4 linked regions of the Homo sapiens genome follow. The protein of the gene in region 3 purifies or fractionates together with the protein of the main gene of each other region. This does not show direct contact. Each region holds a gene or a part of one and is shown on either strand. Other genes may lie near its edges.

Region 1 (7,027 bases), on a different chromosome or scaffold from region 3:
TTAGCTTGGTGAACATATGAAAAAAAGCCAAAAGAAGCTTACCTTAAAAGCTAAAGAAACTGGATGTGACAGAGGCCAAAATAAACATGAATTATGCCACCTACAGCCCAAACAACCAGATCTTATGAATGAAGGCCAGAAAAAGGGGGAGAGAGGTGGACTCAAATGTGAATTTTCTTTCTATTGGTCCTCCTCTCAGCTGGGTGAGTCAGTCCCACGCAAGAATGGCGACGGTCATCCTCCTGTCAAGAGGGGGCGGTTCTTTCACACACTACCTTGGAGAGGAATGTGGCTTCTACATCCTCACTTCTTTTAGCTTCAGTTCCAGATTTCTGACCTTCTTCCTGTGATACTGTGGAGCATGCCTAGTTGACTGGTAGCTGAGTGGAACAAAACTTGTAGATGTAATTCAAAGAAAACTGATTGAAAGGGTCAGTTGCATTGGTTAAAAAAATCCAAGAGCCTCTTATTACTCATCTGTTCCTTAGCCCCACCTTAGACAGGCTCAGAATTTATTCCTCTACTAAGTCTTCAGTCACTCTCTGCATGTATTCAAGCTCTCAGCAGTCATACATCAAACAATAGTAGTTGTGTGGTACATAATAATTATAAGCTATTTTGTAAGTGGCTCTTGTTCTAGGAAGGCACCTCAGTAAGAACAATGATCAAAAAGAATAAAAAGCCTGGGTGCCAGACCATCCCAGGAATGCACTAAGTGAGCCAGCAAGGAAGCAGCAGCTTGTCTGTTCCAGGAAATGCTGGCTGGGTGGGAGTGGGTTCTCACCTTCTTCAGTGTTTGGCTTTAGATGATATACTCTGCCAATTTAGCCTTAGAAATAACAAGAGAATATCACTGTCTGAAACATTAGGGTATTCTAAAAGAATACAGATAAGAAAATTAGGATACTCTTTTAGAATACCTATTATTTTAAACTTAAGCTTGGTGAACATCTGAAAAAAAGCCAAAAGAAGCTTACCTTAAAAGCTCAAGAAACTGGATGTGACAGAGGCCAAAATAAATATCACTTATGCCAACCACAGCCCAAACAACCAGATCTTATGAAGGAAGGCCTCTCATCTAGATATTAGGATATCTAAAAGAATATCCTAAATTTTTAATCCATATTCTTTTAGAATATCCTAATTTTTCTTCCTAATTCTAAAAGAATATCCTAATTTTTTAGACCATCCTAAGTTTTTGGAAAGCCCTCTAAGTGAGTTTTCTCAAAGCCAAAAGTCTTGCCATAAAAAAAAAAAGAAAAAAAAAAAACCTCTAACAGCCCTGAAAAACCAGCCAGCACACCAGGAATCCACCTTCTCCCCACGGGCTTCTTCTGCATGTGTGTCCCCCAACTCTCTCATAGTCAATGGAGAGAAGGGAACACTGCCTTCAAAATCAACCACTTTGCTCCTAGGAGTAGGGTCCTGTCAGCAGAGGGGACACCAACCCAGTCCCAGTGTTGGGCCACTCAGTGGAACCAGGAAGTATGACCCAACAGACCACAGAGACTTTGTTCCCTGCCTCCGTTGAGTCAGCTTCGGACCCACGGTTCACTATCATCAATAACGTGAAATATCACATAATGGCTGGGACTATGCAGTCAGACCCCCACAAAGGGGCTGGGATCCAATCTAGGAAGAGAAGCTCCTTGCTCGATCTTAAAACCCAAGACATTATATTTGAGGGGCACAGCAAACAGTGCAAGAAAATCTGCTGATGGAAGATGATTTTCATCAGTCCTCAGAACCAGAAACTATAAAACTGGGAAGGAAAGTTTAAATAAAGAATTTATTTCCAAATTCAGCAGAACTTCTTTCTTTCTTAAAAAGCCAACTGGGTTAAAAAAATCCAAGTTTGTGTTTTTTGGTGGTGCAATAATTATAAATGTTGCCAGTCAATGCCAACCAGTGTCTGATTGGCTTCCTGTGCATGTCCAATTTCCTCTGTGACACTGTGTTGGTGCCAGAGCTTCTGAATCTTCTTGAATCGCTCTTTGCATAAATGTAAAGGATTTCCCCGTCTAGAAAGAGAAGACACATGTCACTCAGAATGTGTTCTGTTTATTCCTCTATTATAACCCAACCCTTCCTGATTTAGGCAAGGTTACAAGTTATTGGTTTTAGACTCCCTGCAACATTTCTGTCTGGCAGGTGACTGTGGCTATTAACAAAAACATCAGCTCTGACCCTTTGCCAAGAGCAGGTAAAAGGGAATAAGTGCTGAAATGAGGAAGGAAAGGTACACAAACCAGACTTACCCAGAGTGAGGTGAGGGAATAGAGGTTGCGGGGGATAAGGAGGGTCTGGGTTGAGAGGCTAAAACTACCAATTCATTGCCCATTTTGTTGGTAACGTGTAAAAAGGGAAGAGGGCAGAGGAGAACACAAAAGAAGAATTATAGGAGTAAAAATATTCCTCACAGATTTTACTAAGAGTGCAAAGAAAAAAGAAAAGAAAAGAAAAGAAAAACATTCCTCAGATGCAATCTTTCAGCCACAGTCTCAGTGAAGCAATCAAATGTGAGTAACTTCCAGGTCTAATTTAAACACAAGTGCAAGCTTTGGTGGGTTCCTGCCTGGGACCAGTGCCCTGAGCCAGGCACCTCTGCTCCTGTTTCTGAGCACAGCCATCCTCTCACTCACTAATCAGACTCTCCTCCTCCTAACAGCCCACGCTGAGAACAGTGGGAAGCACCAGCACTGGGTGGCATATGGGCATAGCCTCGCAGTCCAGCGCCTGGGGCAGCTCATCTACTTACCTTGCTTGGGTTTCTAGGCCTTTAACATCTGCTACTTAAGGCTGGACAGGCATATCTATGGCGGTTAAAACTTATACCTCCTTTAGACAAAAGAGATGGTCTGAAAGAAGTTCTTTAATAGTGCTTGGGGGAATTGTTAGCTTACAATATACTAAAGCTACCAGAGTAGAAGTAACTTAGCCTCAAATATTGTTATATTGTTCTTTATGTTTTAAATCTTTGTCCCCCAGATTTTAATGTAATAAGCACATTTGTTAGCAATTAAGATTTTCTCAAACACTGGGCTTCCTCTATACAAGGCCATACAAGTCAGAGTGGGCCATCCCTGGAGTGCTCTGAGCTGGGATGCTATATGGCAATTCAAACAGTTCTTTGGAGTGATAAATGGAATAAAGTTGCACTCTGTCCTATTCTCTTCCCTTACCTATCCTGATGTTCCTCATGGCATTCTGAAGGCTGGGAAAAGAACACCAAACCAGGCTGACAGGGCACCCTCCTTGGAAGACTCCACAGATAACACAGCCACCTCTTCCAGAACCACCTCAGCCCTCCACCCTCAGGACGTCACCACATACGGAAGGGCGCTGCAGGCCCTGAGTTAGCTAACTCAGGATGGGTTCTTACCTGAGTCCCTGGTCGGTCTCCCCATAGTCATCAAGGTAAGGAGGAGAATAAAAACAGCCTTTGGTTTTGCCAGCTAAAAATAGCACCTGACATTCCCGTACTCTGTAGAGAGATCAGTCATACGTTACACATTTACACATTAGTAACCAACATTTGTATTCAGTTCCAAATAGAATGAAGTCTTATAGTACTGATATTTAAACCACTATTAGGAGGAAGTTATCCATTAAAAAATTGTGCACAAACTAGGAAATAGGTTGAATCGAGTCAAATTTGTGTCCCCTGATCCCTTTGAGACATTTGCCTTTTTCTGGCATTAATAGTACAGCACAATTAAACAGACATTTATTGAGGACCTAATACGTATAAGAAATTATCAAGGTACTGGGGGGATGACTAAGCTATGGATACAACCTATGCTCCAGAGGAGCCCACACTCATGTCATGCCTCTGCTTCAAACCCTGAAATGGCTTACACCTTGCCCAGAGATGTCACCAGCACACAGCAGGCCCCTGGATTCTCTCACCTGTGCACAACACTCCAGTGACACGCGCCTCCTTGCCTTGAGCAGACAGGCACATTTCTACCCCAGGAACTGTGCAGAATGTTCTGAGTAGAATGTTCTCCCACTTCTTTAGGTCTTTACTCAGAAGTCATGTTCTTAGGAAGCCTTCCCTGATCTACTAAAATTAAATCTCAAATTTAGCTCCATAGCTGCCATTTCATATTCCCCTTCCCTGCTTTATTTTTTCTCCTTAGCCTATATCACTATCTAAATTCTTGTCAGTCTTGCTTGTCCTCTCTCTCATACAAAACAAGCTCCATCCATAAGGGCAGAGATCTTTGCACTGTGGACTACTGCATCCTCAATGCCTGGTACATAGTAGTCACTAATCACAAGCTGGCATGTAGAGTTGTGATAATATGTATAAGTGGAGGTAAAATCCAAAAGCCATGAGGACATAACAGAAAGAGTAATTCTGACTGGATTTGTTCAGAAAATCAGAGAAGTTTCACATTAGTGGGAGACATGGAGAAAGTAGAACAGAACTGTCACCTATGGTTGAGGGAAGAGGAGTGGGAATGGTAACAATAAAAGAACCAACACAGAGTTGGCATGGACCAGATGTGAGATGTGAGGCGACAAGGAGCTCCACGTTTCTGGAATGAATCACACGGAACAGTAGTCTCAAAATTCCTGGCAATATAGTAGTTTCCTGTGACACCCTAACAGTCAGATACTGAGGCAGATCCAAAGCTAAAAAGCCCCTGCAGGTCCTTACCTCAGGAAGATGCCCACTCCAGAGCCACAGGAGTAGGTGTGAGCTGTGCAGGCTCCTACATCCTCCCCTTCCAGTTCAGTCTGGCAGCAGTAACTCTGGGAGCACAGCAGAGATCCGCACACAAGGCACAGAGTTGGGGCTCTGCTCTTATCACCACCTGATTTCGGGCACCTCCAAGGGATAAAAAACCCACAAGTCATTGATCTAAAGAGTGGCTAAAGAGCTAGTGATGAAAAAACCAGCCCAGAAAAGAATTCTGCAATATCAAGTAAAGCCAAAGAAGTGTATATCCTACAGTCTATGCAAGTTTATTCCTAGAATCTGGAATAGGAAACATCTTGCACATATATACAAAGACCATGTACTGGAAACACTCAAAAGAATCAGTAACTGGAGAAAAAAAAATAAATAAAATCATCAATAGGAGAAAAAGATAAACGGTACCACTGCCATATAATAAAATACTATGGAGCAATGAAAAATCAATAAAGTTATAAACGTCAATACAGATAAATCTTAGAAACAATGCTGAATGAATGCAAAATTGGCTGGGTGCAGTGGCTCACGCCTGTAATCCCAGCACTTTGGGAGGCAAAGGTGGGTGGATCAACTGAGGTCAGGAGTTTGAGACCAGCCTGACCAATATGGTGAAACCCCGTCTCTACTAAAAATACAAAAATTAGCCAGGCATGGTGGTGTGCACCTGTAGTCCCAGCTACTTTGGAGGCTGAGACTGGAGAATCACTTGAACCTGGGAGGCGGAGGTTGCTGTGAGCCAAGATCACACCACTGCACTCCAGCCTGGGCAACAGAGTGAGACCCTGTCTCAATAAATAAATAAATAAATAAATAAATAAAATAAAATACAACATACAGCTCTCCCTCTCCCTCTCTTCTCTCCCTCTCCCCTTTGCACAGTCTCCCTCTGATGCCGAGCCGAGGCTGGACTGTACTGCCGCCATCTTGGCTCACTGCAACCTCCCTGCCTGATTCTCCTGTCTCAGCCTGCCCAGTGCCTGGGATTGCAGGCGCGCGCCGCCACGCCTGACTGGTTTTTGTATTTTTTGGTGGAGACGGGGTTTCGCCGTGTTGGCCGGGCTGGTCTCCAGCTCCTGACGGCGAGTGATCTGCCAGCCTCGGCCTCCCGAGGTGCCAGGATTGCAGAGGGAGTCTTGCTCACTCAGTGCTCAATGTTGCCCAGGCTGGAGTGCAGTGGCGCGATCTCGGCTCGCTACAACCTCCACCTCCCAGCCGCCTGCCTTGGCCTCCCAAAGTGCGGAGATTGCAGCCTCTGCCCGGCCGCCACCCCGTCTAGGAAGTGACGAGCGTCTCTGCCCGGCCGCCCAGTCTGAGAAGTGAGGAGCCCCTCTTCCTGGCCGTCATCCCGTCTAGGAAGTGAGGAGCGTCTCTGCCCGGCCGCCCATCGTCTGGGATGTGGGGAGCGCCTCTGCCCCGCCGCCCCGTCTGGGATGTGAGGAGCGCCTCTGCCCGGCCGCGACCCTGTCTGGGAGGTGAGGAGTGTCTCCGACCGGCTGCCCCGTCTGAGAAGTGAGGAGCCCCTCCGCCCGGCAGCCGCCCCGTCTGGGAAGTGAGGAGCGTCTCCGCCCAGCAGCCGCCCAGTCCGGGAGGTGGGGGGCAGCCCCTACCCGGCCAGCTGCCCCGTCCGGGAGGTGGGGGGCAGCTCCCACCCGGCCAGCCGCCCCGTCCGGGAGGTGGGGGGCGCCTCTGCCCGGCTGCCCCGTCTGGGAAGTGAGGAGCCTCTCTACCTGGCCGCCACCCCATCTGGGAGGTGCAACCAACAGCTCATTGACAACAGGCCGTGATGACGATGGCGGTTTTGTCGAATAGAAAAGGGGGAAATGTGGGGAAAAGAAAGAGAGATCAGATTGTTACTGTGTCTGTGTAGAAAGAAGTAGACATAGGAGACTCCATTTTGTTCTGTACTAAGAAAAATTCTTCTGCCTTGGGATGCTGTTAATCTATAACCTTACCCCCAACCCCGTGCTCTCTGAAACATGTGCTGTGTCCACTAAGGGTTAAATGGATTAAGGGCGGTGCAAGATGTGCTTTGTTAAACAGATGCTTGAAGGCAGCATGCTCGTTAAGAGTCATCACCACTCCCTAATCTCAAGTACCCAGGGACACAAACACTGCGGAAGGCCGCAGGGACCTCTGCCTAGGAAAACCAGAGACCTTTGTTCACATCTTTATCTGCTGACCTTCCCTCCACTATTGTCCTATGACCCTGCCAAATCCCCCCCTCCGAGAAACACCCAAGAATGATCAATAAATACTAATTAAAAAAAAAACATACAAAATAACAATACATGCTGCTCAAGAATAGAAACTTATATAGTTAAT
Region 2 (7,370 bases), on a different chromosome or scaffold from region 3:
CGGCCTCAGCCTCCCAAAGTGCTGGTATTACAGGTGTGAGCCCAACTACACGTTTGTCAGTTAAAAACATATTTGTTTGGCCAGGCCTGGTGGCTCATGCCTGTAGTACCAGCACCTTGGGAGGCCAAGGCGGGAGGATCACTTAAGCCCAGGAGTTCGAGACCAGCCAGGGTAATATAGCAAGACTTCCCGTCTATTTTGAACAATAAAATTTTACATTTATAAACAGTTAAAAATCAGCCGGAGGCCAGGAGCAGTGGCTCACGCCTGTAATCCCAGCACTTTGGGAGGCTGAGATAGGCAGATCATGAGGTCAGGAGTTCGAGACCAGCCTGGCCAACAGGGTGAAACCCCGTCTCTACTAAAAATACAAAAATTAGCCAGGCGTGATGTCAGGCATCTGTAATCCCAGATACTCGGAAGGCTGAGGCAGAACTGCTTGAACCCAGGAGGTGCGGGTTGTTGTGAGCCGAGATAGTGCCACTGCACTAGCCTGGGTGACAGAGCAAGACTCCCTCTGTCTCGAGAGAAAAAAAAAAAAAAATCAGCCAGGTGTGGTGGTTCACACTTGTAATCCTAGCACTTTGGGAGGCTAGGGTGGGTGGAATGCCTGAGCTCAAAAGTGCTCAAGAGCTCATAGGCAGAGGCCTGGGAGGAAAATATCGTCCAGGAACACGGCTTGTGCCCCCAGGAGCCAATACTACCTATGGGGCCCATGCCCCTTCGCTCCTGCCTGGGGAGGATCACCTGAGCCCAGGCTGAGGTGGAAAGACTTCTTGACCCTGGGAAGCACTAATGCAGGAGGAATACTGATTCAGGATGAGTTCAGTGAGCTGGGCAGGAGTCAGATAATGAAAATGTGTTACAGGTCAGAGTAGAGTTAACTTGGATTTTAACTGCAATGGGGATCTTAGAAGAGCTTTAAACAGGAAGCAATCTAATACTTTGGTGACTTGCAAGAAAATATATAGCAGAGAGACAGAGTGAAAACACAACCACTGAGAGTGCTATTATGGTACTCTAGGCAAGAGATGGCAGTGGCTTGTTCTAGGAACGTGGCGATGGAGATGGAAAGAAGTAGGCAGCGTCAGAGTATATTTTGGAGGCAAAGCTAACAGGACTTACTAAGGAAGAAGCAGAAAGAGCAGACACAAAGATAGCTCCTAAATTTATAGTTTCAGCAACCTAATAGTTTGTGGTGCCATAGCAAACAAACTGGAGAAGACTAGGGAACGAACAGATTTAAGAGGAAATCAAACGTTTCATTTTGGCCAGGTTGAGTGTGAGAATATCTGTGGAGATTCCCAGAAGGCAAAGAGAAATGCAAATCTGAACTTAGGGGAGAGGGTCTGTAGACAAAAACTTGAGTCACCAATACACAGATAGCTTTTAAAGCCATGGGACACTAAATGATATTACCTAAGTAGGCAGCATAGTGAAAGAAAAAAAATAGAGAAGAAGCTCCAGAATTGAGCTCTGGAACACTTTAACAGGAGTTAGCCACGGGATGAACCAGAGAAAAAGACTGAAAAGAACTAGCAGCCAGTGAGAAAAGACAAAGAAAAGCATGGCAACGAAGAAGCCAAAAACATGTTTCAAGGAGGGAGGGGTCAACTGTGTCAAGTACCACCGAAGTGGAGAGGGAATAAGGGACAGGGAAGTAACCACTGAATTTGGAAAAATGGAGATTATTGGTGACCTTGACAAGAGCTGTTTCAGTTGCATTGCGGGAATGGAAGCCTGAGTGGAATGAGTTTGGAAGAGAATGAAAAATGAGAAGAAGACAGTAAATACAGGCAACTTTTATTACAGGTTCTATTATCACAAGGGCCAAATAACCAGGCTGACTCTGGCCATGCTTCCCAGCAGCCTTCCTCTCAAACCTCCAGATCTTCAGGTCCTCAGTTCTTGCAGGGCAGGGGCACATTCTTTTTTTTCACTCAATGACGTATTTAACAAGCATCTACTGTACGCAAGGCACAGTGCTAGGTGCTATGTGAGTTACAAAAATAAATTCTGTTCACAGGAAGTGTTTAGAACAACAGGGTTATGAGGTCGGACGCGGTGGCTCACGCATGTAATCCTAACACTTTAAGAGGCCGAGACAGGTGGATTGCCTGAGCTCAGGAGTTCGAGACCAGCCTGGGGAACACGGTGAAACCCCGTCTCTACTAAAAATACAAAAAATTAGCCGGGCGTGGCGGCGTGCGCCTGTAATCACAGCTACTCGGGAGGCTGAGACAGGAGAATCGCTTGAACCCGGGAGGCGGAGGTTGCAGAGAACCAAGATCGTGCCATTGCACTCCAGCCTAGGCGACAGAGCGAGACTCCGTCTCAAAAAAAAAAAGAAAAGAAAAGAAAAAAAAGAACAATAGGGGGTATGAGACACATACCAAGAAGAGTATCAAGGCTCAGATGTAGTAATACAGGTGTTCAAAGGCGTTTCCTTTCACTTGTAAAAGGTGATGTGGAAGGCTTGGAAGAGGAAGTGACGCTTGAGCTTTTAAGTATAAGTAGAATTTTAAGATATGTAATTAAGGACGCGGAAAAGAAGTCATTCCCGGCAAAAGAAATAATACGGCCGGCGCAGAGGCGGGAAAACATGGACTGACTGCGAGAGAAAAGCCAGAGTTCCAGTTTGGCTGCACCAAAGGCTACTTTAAGCATGAAAGAATAAGGTCAGACTGGGGGTATCAGAGGCGCTGTGCCCATAGGCAGAGTCCTGGGAGGAAAATATCGTGCAGGGACGTGGCCTGTGCCCGGAGGAGCCAACACTACCCCTGGGGCCCGCGCCCCTTCACTCCAGCCCGCCCGAGCTTCCCGGGTTCATGCCCCTTCTCTGAGGCGTTCTTTCCCGCCTCATCCAGGAGGCAGGGGCCACCGCCGTGCCCTGACTCTAGCCCTTTCTGTAAGCTCGTGGGAACCGCCTCCACCGCCCGGGACTCACCACCCTGAGTCTGAACCGCCCAACGCGGCCTCAACGTCGCGGAGCCGTCGCCATCTTTCCCGTTTCCTGGTCGCGGAGATGAACACCCCCCACCCCCCCGGCCGCGAGGCAAGCTGGGAAGGCGAGTTCCTGGAGCTGGGCGGCACAGGCCGACACTGAGGCCTGGAAACTACCAATCCCAGAATGCATGACTTGAGCGCCGGCCCCAGGCTGCGGGGTCTGCCGGGCAATGTGGTTTGCCAGACGTTAGCGTCCGGGAAGGAAGAGTTTTTCGCCAATAGGCTTTCGGCATTAGGTTCTCCCGCCGAGCACCCTTCTTGGAATCGGCTGGTCTTCCTAGAAACTACGGTCTATGACTGTCCTTGCCCGTGGCTTACAGTGGAGGAATTTAAGGGCTTCCTGAGATATCTGTAGTACGTAATTATAGCTAACAACCGCAGTAACAATAAATACCATTCGTGGAAAAGCGGTTTTTATAATAATTCTGTGAGAATGGGGCTAGCCCCATTTTACAGTTGGACAAACTAAAGATCAGGTTACCGGAGTAGGTTCACAAGGAGGGTGATGCAGTTCTCCATTGTGTGTGGAACTATCCCAGGCTTAGGAGGACGTTTTAGCAACCTTGGCCCCTGCAGCCGGGTGAATGCCATAACAACCCCCAGTTATTGTTACAGCTCCAAATGAGCCCACACAATGGGCTCTAAAGTCCTCCCGGAAGGATGGTATCTCCTGGGCTCTAGCACCTGTTTTCTCAACATTCCAGATGGAACCCTGGTTTCCTCAATTTCTTGCCCTTTGGAATGTGACCAATTGTTGAGCTATCTTGGTATTTTTGCTTCTTTCTTCCCCCAGATTCCCCTACTTCAGTCTTCCACTGAGTTTTGTTGTTGCTGTTGTTGTTGTTGTTGATGTTGTTGTTGTTGTTTTAACCTCAAATCGTAAGTTCACTTTGTGTTTCTCTTTGGTCTTATGGGTTCATAACTCTTTCCCTCAAAACAAAACAAAACATTGCAGTTGCGGAAACGGTTTAGATAACCAGAAGTATCTCGGACCTCCCTTCCCATTTTGCCAGCAGCAGGTTTGTTGCTTCAATTCCACATGGCTGTAGGTCTGCCTTTTCTCTCTGAATATGCCCAAGCTCTCAAGCAGAGCCTCAGGATAGACCCAAGTAATCCTAAAGCCCTGAGCATCACGTACAATGGCCCAAAGTAACCCTCGGAGACACACACTTCTCTTAGAACCTGCAGCCTTTCACCTCCCAGCTTCTACTCCAGAGAGAACGCAAGGGAAAGAAGAGAGCTCTGAGATCTGTTAGGTGTAATTCACCACAAAAGCACGAGAGGGCGCTCGACTCACAGATTCACAGATTAAACTAAGAATCAGACCAACCATGGTAGGCCAGAATCTTCAAAAACTGCAGCCACTTTTTATTGAGAATCTTCTAAGTGCTCAGCTCTGGGCTGGACACTTAACCTACCTTATTTGTTTTACTTAGTTCTCATAGCAGTATGAGATGAGTGCTATCTCCATTTTACTGGTAAGGAGATTGTGGCCCAGAAAGAGTAATTATGCCTTCAAAGGCCACATAGTTAAAAGAATGGGCCAGGTGAGGTGGCTCATGCTTGTATCTCAGCACTTTGGGAGGCCAAGACAGGAGGACTGCTTGAGCCCAGGAGGTCGAGGTCGCAGTGAGCCATGCTCGTGCCACTGCACTACAGCCTGGGTGACAGAGCAAAACCCTGACTGGAAAAAAAAAAAAAAGAAAGAAAGAAAAAAGAAAAGAAAAGAATGGAGCCAAAATTCAGGTTCATTTAACTTCAGAGTCCATTACCTTTCCCCATTTTCAGGCTGCCATCTCAACTCTCTTTAAATTGAGCTCCTGGAGGGTGATAAAGCTTGTCCCAGTTCATAGTGGCAGAGTTCCTCTAGTACTTGTGCGCACATCTCATGACACATGTAAGACATTGGGCTTCAAGGATACTTGTTATTTGTCTTGCCCCACTAGTTCTCTCACAAACATGAATCTTTGTTTTCTTATTTGTTTGTATTTTTATTTTATTTTATTTATTTATTTATTTTTGAGATGGAGTCTCGCTCTGTCGCCAAGCTGGAGTGCAGTGGTGCAATCTCGGCTCACTGCAATCTCCACCTCCCTGGTTCAAGCGATTCTCCTGCTTCAACCTCCCAAGTAGCTGGGATTACAGGCACATGCCACCACACCCAGCTAATTTTTGTATTTTCAGTAGGAACGGGGTTTCATCATGTTGGCCAGGATGGTCTCGATCTCCTGACCTCGTGATCCACCTGCCTCGGCCTCCCAAAGTGCTGGGATTACAGGCGTGAGACTCCACACCTGGCTTATTTACTTATTTATTTTTGAGACCGGGTTTCACTTTGTTGCCCAGGTTGAAGTGGAGTGGCACAAACAGCTCACTGCAGCCCTGACCTGGGCTCAAGTGATCCTCCTGCCTCAGCCTCCCAAGTAGCTGGGACCACAGGTGCACCCCATCATGCCTGGCTAATCGTTTTACTTTCTGTAGAGACAGGGTCTTGCAATGTTGTCCAGTTTGGTCTCAAACTCCTGGCCTCAAGCAATCCGCCCGGCTCGTCCTCCCAAAGTGCTAGAACTACAGGCACCAGTCACCACACCTAAACCATCATCTTTGGAGACAGAGACAGAGGGATGGTGTTCTAGTAAGAACCATAACTGGAGATACCTATTTAGGTACAACATGCCTACCAGTAAGGGGTCCATGGGATTTTGGTGAACAGTGAGTTCTGGTTTGAATCTTGGCTCAATTGCTTACTAGTACTGTGATCTTGTGCAAATTATATGGCATCTCTGGCTTTTCTCTTTCCTCATTACAAAACAGAGATAATAATACCACTTCCCTCACAGGACAGGACAGCAGAGCAAGTTAGAGTGCATGATGTGAAGCCAGATTGCCTGGATTTGTATCCATGTTCAACCACTTCCTAGCTGTGTGACCTTGTGCACGTTACCTAATCTCTCTGAACCTCGGTCTTCTTTTCTGTAAAATGAAGTAGATAGCGGCGGGGCGCCGTGGCTGACACCTGTAATCCCAGCACTTTGGGAGGCCAAGGTGGGTGGATCACCTGAGGTCGGGAGTTCGAAACCAGCCTGACCAACATGGAGAAACCTCGTCTCTACTAAAAAAACAAACAAACAAACAAACAAAAACAGAATTAGCCGGGCATGGTAGCACATGCCTGTAGTCCCTTGGGAGGCTGAGGCAGGAGAATCACTTGAACCCAGGAGGCAGAGGTTGCGGTGAGCCAAGATCGTGCCATTGCACTCCAGCCAGAGTGAAACTCCGTCTAAAAAAAAAAAAATAGCACCTCATAGGCTCATAGGGTTATCACAGGAATAAATAACATAGAAAGAACTCGTAAGTGGGGCCGGGCACCATGGTTTATGCCTGTAATCCCAGCACTTTGGAAGGCCGAGGCAGGAGGATCACTTGAGCCCAGAAGTTCAAGACCAGCCTGGGCAACATGGTGAAACCCCATCTCCACAAAAAATAGACTACTACTGTGGTACTCCTGTAGTCCTAGCTACCCAGGAGGCTGAGGTAGGAGGGTCAGGAGGGTGATCAGGACGGTGAACCAGGAGGGTGAGGTTGCAGTGAGCAGTGGTCATGCCACTGTACTCCAGCGTGGGCGACAGAGTGAGACCCTGTCTCAAAAAAAAAAAAAGAAAAATCTCGTAAGTGCCCCGACCCATAGTAAACATTTAACAAATGTTAGCTCTTATCATTTATGAGTCTAAATGTGATCATGTAAAGCCCTCAACACAGTGCACAGTGCTGAACACTCATTAAGTACATGCTAACTTTATTTATTTATTTATTTATTTAGAGATGGAGTCTCCCTCTTTTGCCCAGGTTGGAGTGCAGTGGCGCAATCTTGGCTCACTGCAACCTCTGCCTCCCGGGTTTAAGCGATTCTCCTGCCTCAGCCTCCCGAGTAGTTGGGATTACAGGCACGTGCCACCATGCCCGGCTAATTTTTGTATTTTAGTAGAGATGGGGTTTCACCGTGTTAGCCAGGATGGTCTCGATCTCCCGACCTTGTGATCCACCTGCCTCAGCCTCCCAAAGTTCTGGGATTACAGGCTTGAGCCACCGCGCCTGGCCTAGTACATGCTAACTTTATTTCTGGCACTAGCACTACACTATGGCACTTGGAAAACAAGAGCTATAAGTCACTGAGAAAGGAAGTTAAGAGTTAAGGCCCCTGAGCTGCCATCAGTAGGCATCGGAATTGGAAGGTCATGAAGGCAAATGTCACCTCTCCTTGAACTCAGAGGAGACCAGAATCCCAGGAGCCTCCCCCAGCTTTGGCTTAGTCTGTCCACCTTCTATGTGGGGTGGAATCTCAGCAGCTTGGATCCTCTACTGAT
Region 3 (7,027 bases):
CAGTAGAGACATGGAAAAAGCCACGTGAAGACAGAGGCAGAGAGAGGAGTTATGTAGTCACAAGCCAAGAAACACCTGGAATGACCAGAAGTTGCAAAAGGCAAGGAAGAATTACCGCTCCCCACAACCCCCCAGGGCCTTTGGAAGAAGCAAGGTGCTGCCAATACCTTGACTTCAGATTTTGGCCTCCACGCTGTGAGAGAATAAATGTGTGTTCTTTTGAGTCACCAAGTTTGTGGTAATTTGTTATAGCAGCCACAGGAATCTAATACACATGGGATAAAAAATGATTACCTCTATGATTTTAACTGCTTTCCTCATTTGCTGTTGTTCCCAAGTATCTTGCTTTTCATCTTCCTGACTTTCTTCACTTGTTTCTTCATTTCTGCTTACTAGCGGAAAAAAAGCTCACATGTAAACGTTTAGTATTTTTCCATTTTAATTGCAGCAAGCCAACATTTTTTGAGATTATACAAAGGCTTAGCACCACTTGACGTGTTATTTATTCTTCATAATAATTCTGGGAAGAAGGCACTATTACTGCCCTCATTTCACAAATGAGGAAATGCAAATATTGGGAGGTTAAGTAACTGTCTTAGGACTATGTTGAAGCTGGAAGCTGGATCCTGGGATCTGACTCCATAACCTGCACTCCTATCACTAAACTGTCCCACTCAAAACACTATAGCCCTATATTGTAAAAAACTGAGAAAGAATGAAATGTTTGGTTTTTCTTATCAAAGATCTCTCAATTACTACCTGAGAATCCAAACACTTAAAAATAAATTGTAAGGAACTAAGTCCTTTTCTGAAAAAAATATTATTTAAAGTTACCAAAACCTTGGTCAAATGCATATATCATAAATGAGAAATATGAAAACAGTCCTTTAAGGCTTAGTATTATTGGTAGAGGAAATTTTTTATTACAGCAGGGAAGATTTTAATACATGACATCTAAAATCTCTATAGATGCTTCCATGTTAAAAAAAATATATTTATACAGGTAAAAACGATCGTTTTCAATGCTTTGAAAGTAAGATACTGCACATTTTTTTTAACCTGTCCAAAAACATCAAGGTGGGAGGTCAGGCATTAATAAACATTATTACACATACTCCTTGATAATAACATTTTGATACAGATACATCTTTTAGAGGTCACAATATCATGGACCAAATCGATGTTAAAAACCATTATCAACACTATAAAATGTGAGCCAGCATATTACATTTTTTATGGAGATTCTCTCATATTATATTCTAATAAAAAATATCCTAATCTTCATATATTGGTAAATCCATACTTGATTCCTCAGCCATCCTTTGTCTAAGTGTTTGAGGTCTTAGAGTAAATGGTATTCTCTTTTCATGGTCATCAGGCTCACTCTCAGGGTCATCTTCGCTCTCTCTCTTCATACCAGAGATGGAGGAGGTATGTTGTACATCCAAAGAAATATAGTCATCTTGGGCCCTGGCCAATTCACGTTTTCTGCGGGCTGCCTGAATAAAAGCTGCATCTGGGATCTTAACTGAAGGAAACAAAGACGAGGACACTAAAAACCAAAGACCAATGTAAGTAAATATTCCTCACATTTAAGAAAAAGAAAAAAGCACCATTTTCCTAAATTATTTGCTATTTTGATATATGAATGTGACTTTAATAAATGGCTCAAAATCTGTATCAGCAAAGGAAGAAAACTTAATAGAGATTAAATACAACTTAGAAAAATCAAACAAATCTAGAAGTATCAGAAAATATACTGAAACTGCTTCATTTTATCTTTTAACTCTCTTACTCATCAGGTACTGCTCACTTTGTTGAGGGGTCGCTATTTCTCATTTCTGGAAGCTCTGAGATTGTCAGCGCAGGGATGTGGAGAGGGCTGAGTGTGGTGTTCCCCAATCAGTGAGAGCTACAGAAGTTAGAAGGATCAATGACAGACCAGCCTGACTTACCAAGTAAGAGAGATACTACACTATGATGTCCTCCTTCCTCCTTCCCTCCTACCCACACTTACAAGAAATCACAAACATACTACAAACAGTAACAGAGCAAAGCCAAATTAGCCTCTGCGGTTCTGTAGTGAGCCCCACGTGAATAAACATGAGACATTAAGAAGTGTAAAGAAAATAATCAGGCTCATTTACCAGGTGAAAAATTTTAAATGACAACAACTCTTAAGAGAGTCTTATTTTTTTTCTTTATTTTGTACAGCATAAATATCATTAGCATAAACTCTTCCAATTTAAAACGAGTTTCTTCATGCATGATCTAAGCTGAAATTTATCTTCATTCTGGAAAAAACGGTTTCTTAAGAAAAATACTACATTAAAGAAACAGCGAGAGAAATTTTCACCATTTTAAGCACTTCAAACTACTAAAAAGATGTCAAGCTACTGAGGCTGAAGTGAAATTTTCTAAACTTTCCCACAAGTTGACCCAAATTCTTTGAGAAATAAACAGAAAAATGCCATGTACTTGGAGATGCACAAAAGCTCCCATGTTTGAAACAAACAAAAAAAGAGAAAGATTTTAGAAATCACAGACCAATATGCTTGACATCAGCCCTAGGGAAAATTAAAAGTCCTTGAGTGAATCATGAAGCAATAAAGAAATCACTAGAAGTCAATAAATATTCATCAAGAACAAGTAATAGAAAATGAAGTGATTTGCTTTTTTATAGATTAGTAATTATTTATAGACTACTGTCAGGGACATGATGAAGGTCAGGTGTCTCTTCCTCCTCCCAAAGCATTTAAGATTCAAAACCATCACAGCAGGTTATAGTAGCAATTCTCGACCCTGGCTACACATCAGAGTCACCTGAGAAGCTTGACATACCCAGGCCTCTATACCAGTGATTCAGATGTTGATCTGAGGCAGAGCTGAGCAGAAGTATGTTTTTATAGCTCCCTAGAGGATTTTAATGTGCAGGCAGGATTAAGATAAGACATTTAGGTTCAAATACTCAAGTGTATGAATGTGGACACAGAAATACTTATTTTGGAAGTGATTTTCTTGCAGGTGACTCGGTAGGGTTTAATTAGTAAGTCACAAGCAATGGGACACACTAGTAAGATATTAGTGCTACATAAAGGTAACTGCTCAAGTAAAAATAAAGAAGTAAAAAACCAAGGAAGAGAAGAGTATTGCGTTTGTCCTGTTTCTGCATATTCAATACCTCGTTCAAGGGTTCTCACACAGCAGATGCTGGGCAGACATAGGAGGAATCAATAATGTCAGCATATTGTTCAATAATAAATACATCATGTTTTTACAAATTTATAACTTATGAATAATTCTTCACATATATCATCCTATCTGATATGCAATCATCTAGGGCTGAGAGGTAAATTATCATCTTCTATTAGTAACAAGTAATCTCTGCTAGAGGGACTATTTTGAGGCAGTTATTCATCGGAACACAAATAAATGCTCTTCTTCCACATGCCAGCCCTTAAAATTAACACATTCCTCCATCTTTTCTTCGCCAGCCAATAAGTCCTTCGAACTTTCAGGTGTTCCTCACAGGACAAGTTTTCAATTTTTAATCAGCGTTTCTCAATGTGCATAGGGGATGGGCAATTCACTGCGCTGAACTGTTCTGCACTCCTGTTAAGACATTTATCATCCCTTGCCTCTAGGGCACTATGTGCCAGCAACAACTCAACTACTATAATCATTTAAATAATCCCACACATTTTCAAACGCTGCCCTCTCTCCTAAGGTGGGGGCAGTGCTGCCAACACTTTACAACCACTGCCTTATCCTGTTTAATCCACCATCTTTTTTTGTTTGTTTGGTTTTGAGATGGAGTCTTGCTCTGTTGCCCAGGCTGGAGTGCACTGGCATGATCTCTGCTCACTGCAACCTCTGCCTCCCAGGTTCAAGCAATTCTTTTGCCTCAGTCCCCTGAATTACAGGTGCATGCCACCATGCCTGGCTAATTTTTACATTTTTAGTAAAGCCAGGGTTTCACCATTTTGGCCAGGTTGGTCTCAAACTCCTGACCTCAGGTGATCCATCCACCTCGGCCTCCCAAACTGCAGACATGAGCCATGGCACCTAGTCTAATCCGCCATCTTTTATAGTAGCATTGTTTGGTACAGTAGCCACTAGCCCTATGTGAGTATTCAAATATAACTAAAAATTCAATTTCTCAGTCTCGCTATAGCCACATTTCAAGAGCTCAACAGCCACTTGTGACTAGTGGCTACCATATGGACAGTGAAGATAGAAAATTTTTCCAAACCACAGAAAATTTTACTGAATAGCACTGTATCTAGAATCCAGACAAGGCTTCAACTGTTTACTAGATTTCAGTTCTTAATATTGGCTTAATCGCTTAGTATTTCTGTACCTTGTGGACATGGAGAAGAAACAAAATTACAAGGTTACAGAGCTACTGGTTGTTGTTATTTAATAGGCTAATAAAGAAGCACTTATGGCCGGGCGTGGTGGCTCACGTCTGTAATCCCAGCACTTTGAGAGTCCGAGGTGGGCAGATCAAGAGGTCAGGAGATCGAGACCATCTTGGCTAACACGGTGAAACCCCATCTCTACTAAAAATACAAAAAATTAGCCAGGCGTGGTGGCCTATAGTCCTAGCTACTCAAGAGGCTAAGGCAGGAGAATGACGTGAACCTGGGAGGCGGAGCTTGCAGTGAACCCAGATTGCGCCACTGCACTCCAGCCTGGGCGACAGAGTGAGACTCCATCTCAAAAAAAAAAAAAAAAAAAAAGAAGCACAGAAGCACTTATTACTATATTACAAGCGTCATAAAATATATTTTAATAATTTTATTTCAATATAATTTGTTTCCTCTACAAAGCTATGTATTTTACTTTATTTTCTCAGAAGGGATCTTAGGCTTCACTAGACTGAAAAAGGAGTCCACGGCACAAAACAAGTTATAAACCTCTGTAAGACGCCAGATAAATATTTTTCACTTTGCGGGCCATAGGGTCTTTGTGGCAACTTCTCAACTCTGCTGCTGCAGTGCAAAAGCACCCACAAATATTAAGTAACTGAAAGACTGTGATTGTGTTTTAATAAAACTTTGTTTACAAAAACAGGTGGTGGGCCAGATTTGCCAACCCCTGAACTAGACTGATCTTTCTAAGACACAAAAACATTCATGTCATCTGTATAAAATTTTCAGTGGTTCCCTAAGCCCTGTATAATCTGACTCCAACTTGTCCTTCCTGTTTTCTTTTCCTTAAACTCGCAACCAAATACTTTCAGCCAGAGCTATTTTTAGCTTCCTGCACATATTACATACCTTCCCTAGAGTTTCAGATATGCTACATCCTATACCTGAAACATCCTCCCTGACAAATTCTTACCATCCTTCAAGTATCAATGTCAATCACCCAGTATAGCACAGTGATTAAGAAGAATACAGGCTCCAGAACAAACTGGGTTTGAATCCTAGCCCTGCTACTTATAAGCTGTCTGACCTGTGCATGTTAAAATGTAATAAAAATGAGCAATTTTGGCACTCTGACAATCATCATTAATGACCTACTTGCCCCATGTCACTAGAGTTTGTTATGTCATTAATAACTATATCAAAAACACTATATTAAAAATAAAATTCTTAACCAAAATCATACAAATTACTAACCTGTTGATGAAAGTTCTTTTTCTCCAAGAGAGCTAGAACTGTCAGAAGACAAACCCTGATCATCCTTACTTTCTGAGGAGTGATGTATTTTATCCTCTTCATCTGTGGACACATCAAGGGTTCTGGATTCTAACAGGACATTTTAAAAATACAACAAAAAAGAGTCAAAATAATGGAATTATTAATTGAAATTCTGAACAACACATGGCATATGTATAATACGGTGTTTTAATCCTAGTCCATATATTAAAGTAGACATATTGATCTTCCTCCAACTTTCTTTCTTAAGCAACTGAATGATCTACTAAGTGTACAAAGACCCTATTTGTATTATCTAGGCATCTAATAATATATTTCCAAAAGTATGCAATGAGAAAAGGGAAGGAGGCATTAGAGAAAAAAAAAGCGACAAAAAATGAAGTAATATTTAGAATAGTAATGATTGTGAATAAGTAGAAAAGAAAAATATTTAATGTATACTATGTACTAGGCACACTGAAACCTGTTTTACATGACTTATTTAATACCTGTAATTCTATAAAGTAAATGCAATTTCTGATGAGTTCACTAAGGATTGAGAGGATAAAGAACACCAACTCGGGCAGTGGAGAAGCAGGGCTGTCAACCTAATCCCAGGCAACTTCAGAACTTAGGCTCTCTTTATAGTATGCCATATTTCAACGGCTGGTGGCGAGAAATATTGTAACGAGCACTTTGGTCAATATTAAACCATGGGTCCATCTTTTCAATGCATGATTTGGGAAGGTAAATAGTCTGTTAAATTCAATTAATCTGTTAAACAAAGATAACACCAAGATAAAACCCACAGGGGTGTTGTGAAAATTGAATGAACAAAATAAAGGAATTCTTGACATTATTGACAAGAAAGGATTTCTTAATCCACAATAAATTTGCAATCTTTATGAGTAACCTTAAAACATAAGATTACATACTACTCATTAATTTTAATTTTCTACCTTAGTTAGAAGACCTACATACAGTTCAAAAAAGGCTGGAGTAAAATCAAAATTTAAAACACTAAAAAAAATATAGCTGCAGCTCACATCTTTCTTAGATATTGTCATTTATGACAACCCATACCTGTTTCCAAAGTGGATTAACACCAAAGCAGTGGGTCTTAAAGCATGGTTTATCAATCCCTGGAGGTCCTTGAGACTCTTTCAGAGAGTCTGTGAAATTAAAACTACTTTCATCACAATAATAACATGTTATTTGTTCTTTTTACCATGTTGATATTTATATAATGAAGTAAAGGCAGTGATGGGTAAAACTGCTAGGCTCTTGGCATGAATGAATCAATTTGTAGTAGCAGTTATGGTATTTTTCCTTACCTCACATGGCAGAAAAAAGCCAGTTGCTCTTCATGAACTAATTAAAAA
Region 4 (6,566 bases), on a different chromosome or scaffold from region 3:
ATGGTTCCCCCGACTTTGCCACCATGACCTCCTTCCTGTTCCTCCATATATCTCGCTCAGTCCAGCCCTAGAACCTGCTCTCTGCCTGCCAACACTCCTCCCCTCTCAGGTCCCTCTCATTCCAGCTTCAGCTTCATCACCACCACTTCAGAGGCCTTTCCTGACCTGCAATCTAAAGCAGTCACGTGACCCTACAGGAATTCCCTATAAGGCACATTCATTATCAGATCTTTGTCCCGAAACCAGTCCTACCACAGCTTTTCAATCGCCAGAGTCAATAAAAAAATCTCCTTTTTGACTTATGCCAGCTGAGGACAGGCTAGAAAGCCTACAACTAAAGAACCCTGATGGAGATGCTCAGACCTCCCCACCAGCAAGATCCAGCTAATCTTCCCTGCAGGTCTCCCTCCCTTCCAGGCTTGTGTAGGAAACCAAGTCTACAAGGCAAGTGGCAGGACTAGTGACTTGAGGCCTTTAGACACAAGGTCAAGAACCGCAGGGACATGGCAAATTTCATCTGCAGATTTGTTTTTATTTCTGCTGTGCAATTAAAAAAAAAAAAAAAGGGTAAGAGCTGTGAAAGGAAAGGAAGATGGGCTTCCCGGAAGCCAGTGTCCCAGTGTGTGCTCCCTCCCCTTGACCTTCCCAGTCCCAGGTGCTCCTGGTGCAGACAGACACGGGGAGGTGGTTATGGTTATTGTTTTCTTTTTTTAATGAAACTAGATCACTGCTTACAAAACCCTGCACAAGCCCTCCTGCCCATCCCCTTCACAGTTCCCTTGGCTCAGCCTCTCCTGTCTCACAGGAACTGCAACAAAATGGGTGTGGAACAGCCACCACCACGTCCATTGAACGACAGGAAGGGAGAGGCCCTGGGCTCCGACCCTGGGCCTTAAGAGGGTGACAGTTCTTCCTTCCACATCCGTTCCCATGGGGCCTGGAGTTGCATGGATGAGGGTGGTCCATGCCACCATGGTTCTCAGGCCACCACTCAGACCAGAGTGAAATGATGTGAATGTCCCACCCCACAGAGCCCCCTCCCCCCATAGATTCCCCCCACCCCCCCCCCCAAACCCTAATTCTACCCCTCTACTGAGATGAGGCCCAGCTTCCATCAGAAGGGCCAGGGCCTACAGGCTGTAGAACTTGAGGCTTCTGTCCATGCCTGTTGAAGCGATGAACTTGGCGTGATGCCCGAAGGCCACCCCTGTGGTCAGGCCGCTATGCTCTGAGGAGAAAGATAAGAGGCAACTGTGAGAAGGCTTTTCCTCCTTTAGTCTGAACACTGATCCCTAATAACAGATTCCCAAACAACCAGGCCTTCTCTAATTAGTATTTATCACACCGCAGGCTCCTGTTTGTTTTCCCTAGGCTGACCTGCACACTACCCCCAGTGCCTCCCTCAGTGCCTGGCATTTTTCACTGGTGGGATGAATGAATAAAGCAATGCCAGCCCCCCCTTCTCACCTGAGCTTTCTGGGCAACTGCAGTTCGGCTAGGTTTAGTTGAAAAACCTCAGAGCTCAGCTTGTTTATGCCTAGTGCTCACTACTTGCTCGTAAGTGGAACAGTCCATCAGCATTTTCTAGCTCATAGTGTTCCAACCCCAGGGCACTCAGGCCCCTAACACAGAGCAGGACCAGATAAGAGGCAGATGAGGCTGGGCAACATTCCTCATGGGACTCCAGAAATTCATGAACATCTGGCCAAATTCCTTCTAGATTTAGGATCACACCTGGAGTCAACCAACTCCCCATTAAAAAGCTCACGCTGTATTTTCAGCTACCTAACTCGGTTCTAAATCAAAACACCAGGTACAGTACAGGGTGAAAACCGGTGAGCCATATTGTTAGGATGGACACCTTTGTTATACAAACACACTGAGCAGGGCTCAGGAGAATACGGGGCAAGAAGAAATATCTTGTATCCTGCTCACAACCTGCTAATGAGGACGAGAATTTCATCAACACACACAGCAGTAGCTCCCATTCATGTAGCATCTTAAGTGAGCATCAGGCACCCTGTTACCAGCATATTAGCATGCCATCTCCACAACACCAGCTGTCACACCCTGCAAAGCTGTGCCAATATTCCCATTTTCTAGATGAAGGAGTTCAAGATCTGAAAGGGAAAGTCACGTACCCAGGGCCACATAACTGTTAGGTTAGAAACCCTGTTACCCATTCTCTCAGCATCTCATGCTTTTCTTCTCTAGCACTTATAATTGCAATTAAATGTGTACATGTGAAATTAATCTACATCTGCCTTACTAACCTGACTATAAATTACATCAGTGCCCAAATCGGGTCTGTTTTATTCACTGCTCTATCCCACCACAGACTAAGACCCAATGCTGAGTGAGAACAACTGCAAATCCTGACTACGTGCCAGACACCGTTCTGACCTATGTATTCACAGACGGTCCCCGATTTACCATGGTTCAACTTGCAATATTTTCAGCTTATGATGCACTTATCAGGATGTGGCTCCATCGTATATCAAGGAGCACCTGTATGTATTTTCATCTAAACCTCAACAACCCCACTGAGTCTATAGTTACCATTCCCACTTTTCTGAGAGGTTAAGTAATATTGGATCTCAGAAAACAATACCCCAAAGTATGGTGGTTTGGCACGCTGAGGGCTTTGAACCAAGGTCTCTCTGACCATGTCCTGCCCTCCTGTCTCTTGCCCCTCTTTCTCTAAGGGCAGGTCATCTGAAAGGAACATCATGAATCCCCTTCCTGGGAATCTCAACCAGGGAAAATGAACTGGTCTCACAAGAGAGAAGACTAGATGCCAGTCTTTGTCACAGACTGTCATGCATTATTTATCTAAGGTCTGCTCTGAGACAACTTTTATTACCTGAGAGACTCTGTAGTGCACTTCCTCCCCATCCCCCCACATAACTTGTGTCACCACCACCCCCTAGAAGCCTTAGGCCCCTACTCCCTTCTGCAGTTCAGGATGCCATAGAGTCATGTGTCACATAATGACATGTCAGCGACGGACCACACAAACACTGGTCCCATAAGATTACAGTGGAGCTGAAAAATTCCTATCACCAAGTGATGTCATAACCATCATCATGTCACAATGCAATGCATTATTCACGTTTGTGGGGATACAGGTATAAACAAATCTACTACACTGCCAGTTGTATAAAAGTATAATATAGCTAGGCGCGGTGGCTCACGCCTGTAATCCCAGCACTTTGGGAGGCCGAGGTGGGCAGATCACGAGGTCAGGAGTTTGAGATCAGCCTGGCCAACATAGTGAAACCTCATCTCTACTACAAATACAAGTACAAAAAAAAAAAAATTAGCCAGATGTGGTGGCACACGCCTGAAGTCCCAGCTACTCGGGAGGCTGAGGCAGGAGAATCACTTGAACCCAGGAGGCGGAGGTTGCAGTGAGCCAAGACCATGCCATTGCACTCCAGCCTGGGTGACAGAGCAAGACTCAATCTCAAAAAAAAAAAAAGTATAACATAATTAGGTACAGTACGTTACTGGTTTATGTACAGACATATCTCAGGGACATCGCTGGTTCAGCTCCAGGCTACCAATAAAGCAAATATTGCAATAAGGCAAGGCACACAAATTTTTTTGGTTTCTCACTACATATAAAAGTTATGTTGGCCAGGCATGGTGGTTCATGCCTGTAATCCCAGCACTTTGGGAGGCCGAGGCAGGTGGATCGCTTGAGTTCAGGAATTCAAGACCAGCCTGGCCAACATGGGGAAACCCCGTCTCTACTAAAAATACAAAAATTAGCCGGGTGTGATGGTGCCCACCTGTGCTAGAACCTGGGAGGTGGAGGTTGCATTGAGCCAAGATCGTGCCACTGCACTCCAGCCTAGGCGACAGAGCAAGACTCCATCTCAAAAAAAAATGTTATGTTTACACTATACTGTAGTCTATTAAGTGTGTAATAACATTATGTCTAGTAAACAATGTACATACCTTAATCAAAAATACTTTATTGCTAAAACATGCTAACAACCATCAGACACTTCAGTGAGTTGTCATCTTTTTCCAAGACCCACCAGCAGGGTCTTGCCTTGATGTCGATGGCTGCTAACTGACAAGGGTGGTGTTTGCTGAAGGCTGAAGTGGCTGTGACAATTTCTTAAAATAAGACAACAAAGAAGTTTGCCACATCATTTGATTCTTCCTTTGACAAAAGATTTCTCTGTGATGGATGCTGTTTGATAGCATTTTACCCACAGTAGAACTTTCAGAACTGGAATCAATCCTCTCAAATTCTGCACCTGCTTTATCAATTAAGTTTATGTAATATTCTAAATCCTTCATTATCATTTCAACAATGTTCACGGCATCTTCACCAGTAGAAGATTCCATCAAGAAACCACTTTCTTTGGTCATCCCTAAGAGCTCCTCATCCATTAAAGTTTTAACATGAGATTGCAGCAATTCAGTCCCATCTTTAGACTCCCCTTTGGATTCTAATTCTCTTACCATTTCCTCCACATCTGCAGTTACTCCCTCCATGGAAGTCCTCAATCCCTCAAAGTCATCCATGAGGGCTGAAGGGTTGGAATCAATTTCTTCCAAACTCCTCTTTATGTTCATAGTTTAACCTCCTCCCATGAATCACAAATGTTCTTAAGGGCGTGTAGAATGGTGAATCCTTTCCAGGTTTTCAATTTACTTTGTCCAGATCCATCAAAGGAACCACTATCCAGGGCAGCTATAGCTTTATAAAATGTATTTCTTAAGTAATAAGACTTGAAAGTCAAAATTACTCCTTGATCCATAAGCCGAAGATTGGATGTTGCAGGCATGAAACATCTCCATCTGAGCTTTAGGGTAATGAGGTGCACTGTAATATTTTGAAAGGAATCTATTTTTCTGAACAGTACCTCTTAATGGGGGGCTTAAAAAATATTCAGTAAACCATGCTGTAAACAGATGTGTTGTCATCCAGACTTTGTTGTTCTATTTACAGAGCACAGGCAGAGTAGATTTAGCCCCACCTTCTTAAGGGCCCTACAATTTTCAGAATGCTAAATGAGCTTTGGCTTCAATGTAAAATCACCAGCTGCATTAGTCCCTAACAAGGGAATCACTCTGATCTTTGCATCTTGGAAACCAGGCATTGACTTCTCTCTAGCTGTGCAAGTTCCAGATGTCACTTTCTTCCAATAGAAGGCTATTCCGTCTACATTGAAAATCTGTTGTTGAGTGTACCCACCGTCAATGATCTTAGCTAGGTCTTCCGGATAACTTGCTGCAGCTTCTACAACAGCATCTGCTGCTTCACCTTGTACTTTTCTGTTATGGAGATGGCTTCTTTCCTTAAACCTCATGAACCAACCTCTGCTAGCTTCAAACTTTTCTTTTGTAGCTTCCTCACCTGTCTCAGCCTTCACAGAATTCAAGAGTTAGGATCTTGGTCTGGATTATGGTTTGGCTTAAAAGAATGTTGTGGCTGGTTTGATATTCTATCCAGACCACTGAAACTTTCTCCATATCAGCAATAAGGATGTTCTGCTTTCTTATCATTTGTGCGTTCACTGGAGTAGCACTTTTAATTTCCTTCAAGAATTTTCCTTTGCTTTCATAACTTGACTAATATTTGGTGTTGAGGCCTAGCTTTTGGCCTATTTGGCTTTTCACATGCCTTCTTCACTAAGCTCAATCATTTCTAGCTTTGGATTTTAAGTAACAGACATGGGACACTTTCTTTCACTTGGACACCGAGAGGCCATAATACGGTTATTAACTGGCCTAGTTTCAATATTGTTGTGTCTAAGGAAATAGGGAAGTCTGAGAGGGAGAGAGATGGGGAACGGCTGGTGGGTGGAGTGGTCAGAACACACACAGCATTTCATTTATCAAATAAATTCAGTAACTTTTATGGGCACATTTCATGGTGCCCCCCCGCCCAACAATTACAATAGCAACATCAAAGATCACTAACGGACACAATAAATCATGAAGAAGTTTGAAATACTGTAAGAATTACCAAAATTTGACACACAGACACAAAGTGAACACATGTTGTTGGAAAAATGGTACTGACAGACTTGCTTGGGGCAAGGTTGCCAAAAACCTTCAATTTATAAAAAGCAAAGTATCCATAAAATACAATAAAGCTAAGTGCAATAAGACAAGGTATGCCTATACTATACTTTTTTTGGTATTAAATATACTCTTCCCACTTATAAAAAAAAGTTAACTGTAAAACAGCACCAAGCAGGCCCTTTCAGGAGGTATCCGAGAAGAAGGCATTATCATCATAGGAGATGACAGGTTTATGCATGTTGGTGCCCCCGAAGACCTTCCGGTGGGAAAAGATGTGGAGGTAGAAGACAGTGATGTTGGTGCTATGGTTAGGCTTTGTGCCGCCACCCAAATCTCATCTTGAATTGTAGTGCCCATAATCCCCACGTGTTGTGGGAGGGAGCCAGTGGGAAGTAACTGAATCATGGGGGTGGTTACCCCCATGCTGTTCTCATGATAGTGAGTTCTCACGAGATCTGATGGTTTTATGAGGGGCTTTAGCCCCTTTGCTCAGCATTTGTCTCTCCTGTTGCCATGTA

The links.
Region 1: the proteins of GCFC2 (region 3) and UBR2 purify together in Homo sapiens (affinity purification with mass spectrometry; 4 studies listed by BioGRID and IntAct, with this or other methods). This does not show direct contact.
Region 2: the proteins of GCFC2 (region 3) and DDX23 purify together in Homo sapiens (affinity purification with mass spectrometry; 3 studies listed by BioGRID and IntAct, with this or other methods). This does not show direct contact.
Region 4: the proteins of GCFC2 (region 3) and PRPF19 purify together in Homo sapiens (affinity purification with mass spectrometry; 2 studies listed by BioGRID and IntAct, with this or other methods). This does not show direct contact.

The regions. Positions count from the first base shown.
Region 1 is NC_000006.12:42,686,026-42,693,052, reverse strand, and holds part of UBR2 (E3 ubiquitin-protein ligase UBR2), read right to left. Parts: intron 4,838-7,027; coding exon 4,667-4,837; intron 4,067-4,666; coding exon of another isoform or gene 4,045-4,066; exon of another isoform or gene 3,504-4,044; intron 3,485-3,503; coding exon 3,383-3,484; intron 2,022-3,382; coding exon 1,880-2,021; 3' UTR 1-1,879. UniProt on the Homo sapiens protein: E3 ubiquitin-protein ligase which is a component of the N-end rule pathway.
Region 2 is NC_000012.12:48,849,137-48,856,506, forward strand, and holds the start of DDX23 (probable ATP-dependent RNA helicase DDX23), read right to left. Parts: upstream 3,028-7,370; 5' UTR 2,948-3,027; exon of another isoform or gene 2,914-2,947; intron 2,679-2,913; exon of another isoform or gene 2,585-2,678; intron 1-2,584. UniProt on the Homo sapiens protein: Involved in pre-mRNA splicing and its phosphorylated form (by SRPK2) is required for spliceosomal B complex formation.
Region 3 is NC_000002.12:75,700,896-75,707,922, forward strand, and holds part of GCFC2 (intron Large complex component GCFC2), read right to left. Parts: intron 5,757-7,027; coding exon 5,628-5,756; intron 1,553-5,627; coding exon of another isoform or gene 1,529-1,552; coding exon 1,304-1,528; coding exon of another isoform or gene 1,275-1,303; exon of another isoform or gene 901-1,274; intron 393-900; coding exon 295-392; intron 1-294.
Region 4 is NC_000011.10:60,890,036-60,896,601, forward strand, and holds the end of PRPF19 (pre-mRNA-processing factor 19), read right to left. Parts: intron 1,229-6,566; coding exon 1,131-1,228; 3' UTR 512-1,130; downstream 1-511. UniProt on the Homo sapiens protein: Ubiquitin-protein ligase which is a core component of several complexes mainly involved pre-mRNA splicing and DNA repair. Required for pre-mRNA splicing as component of the spliceosome.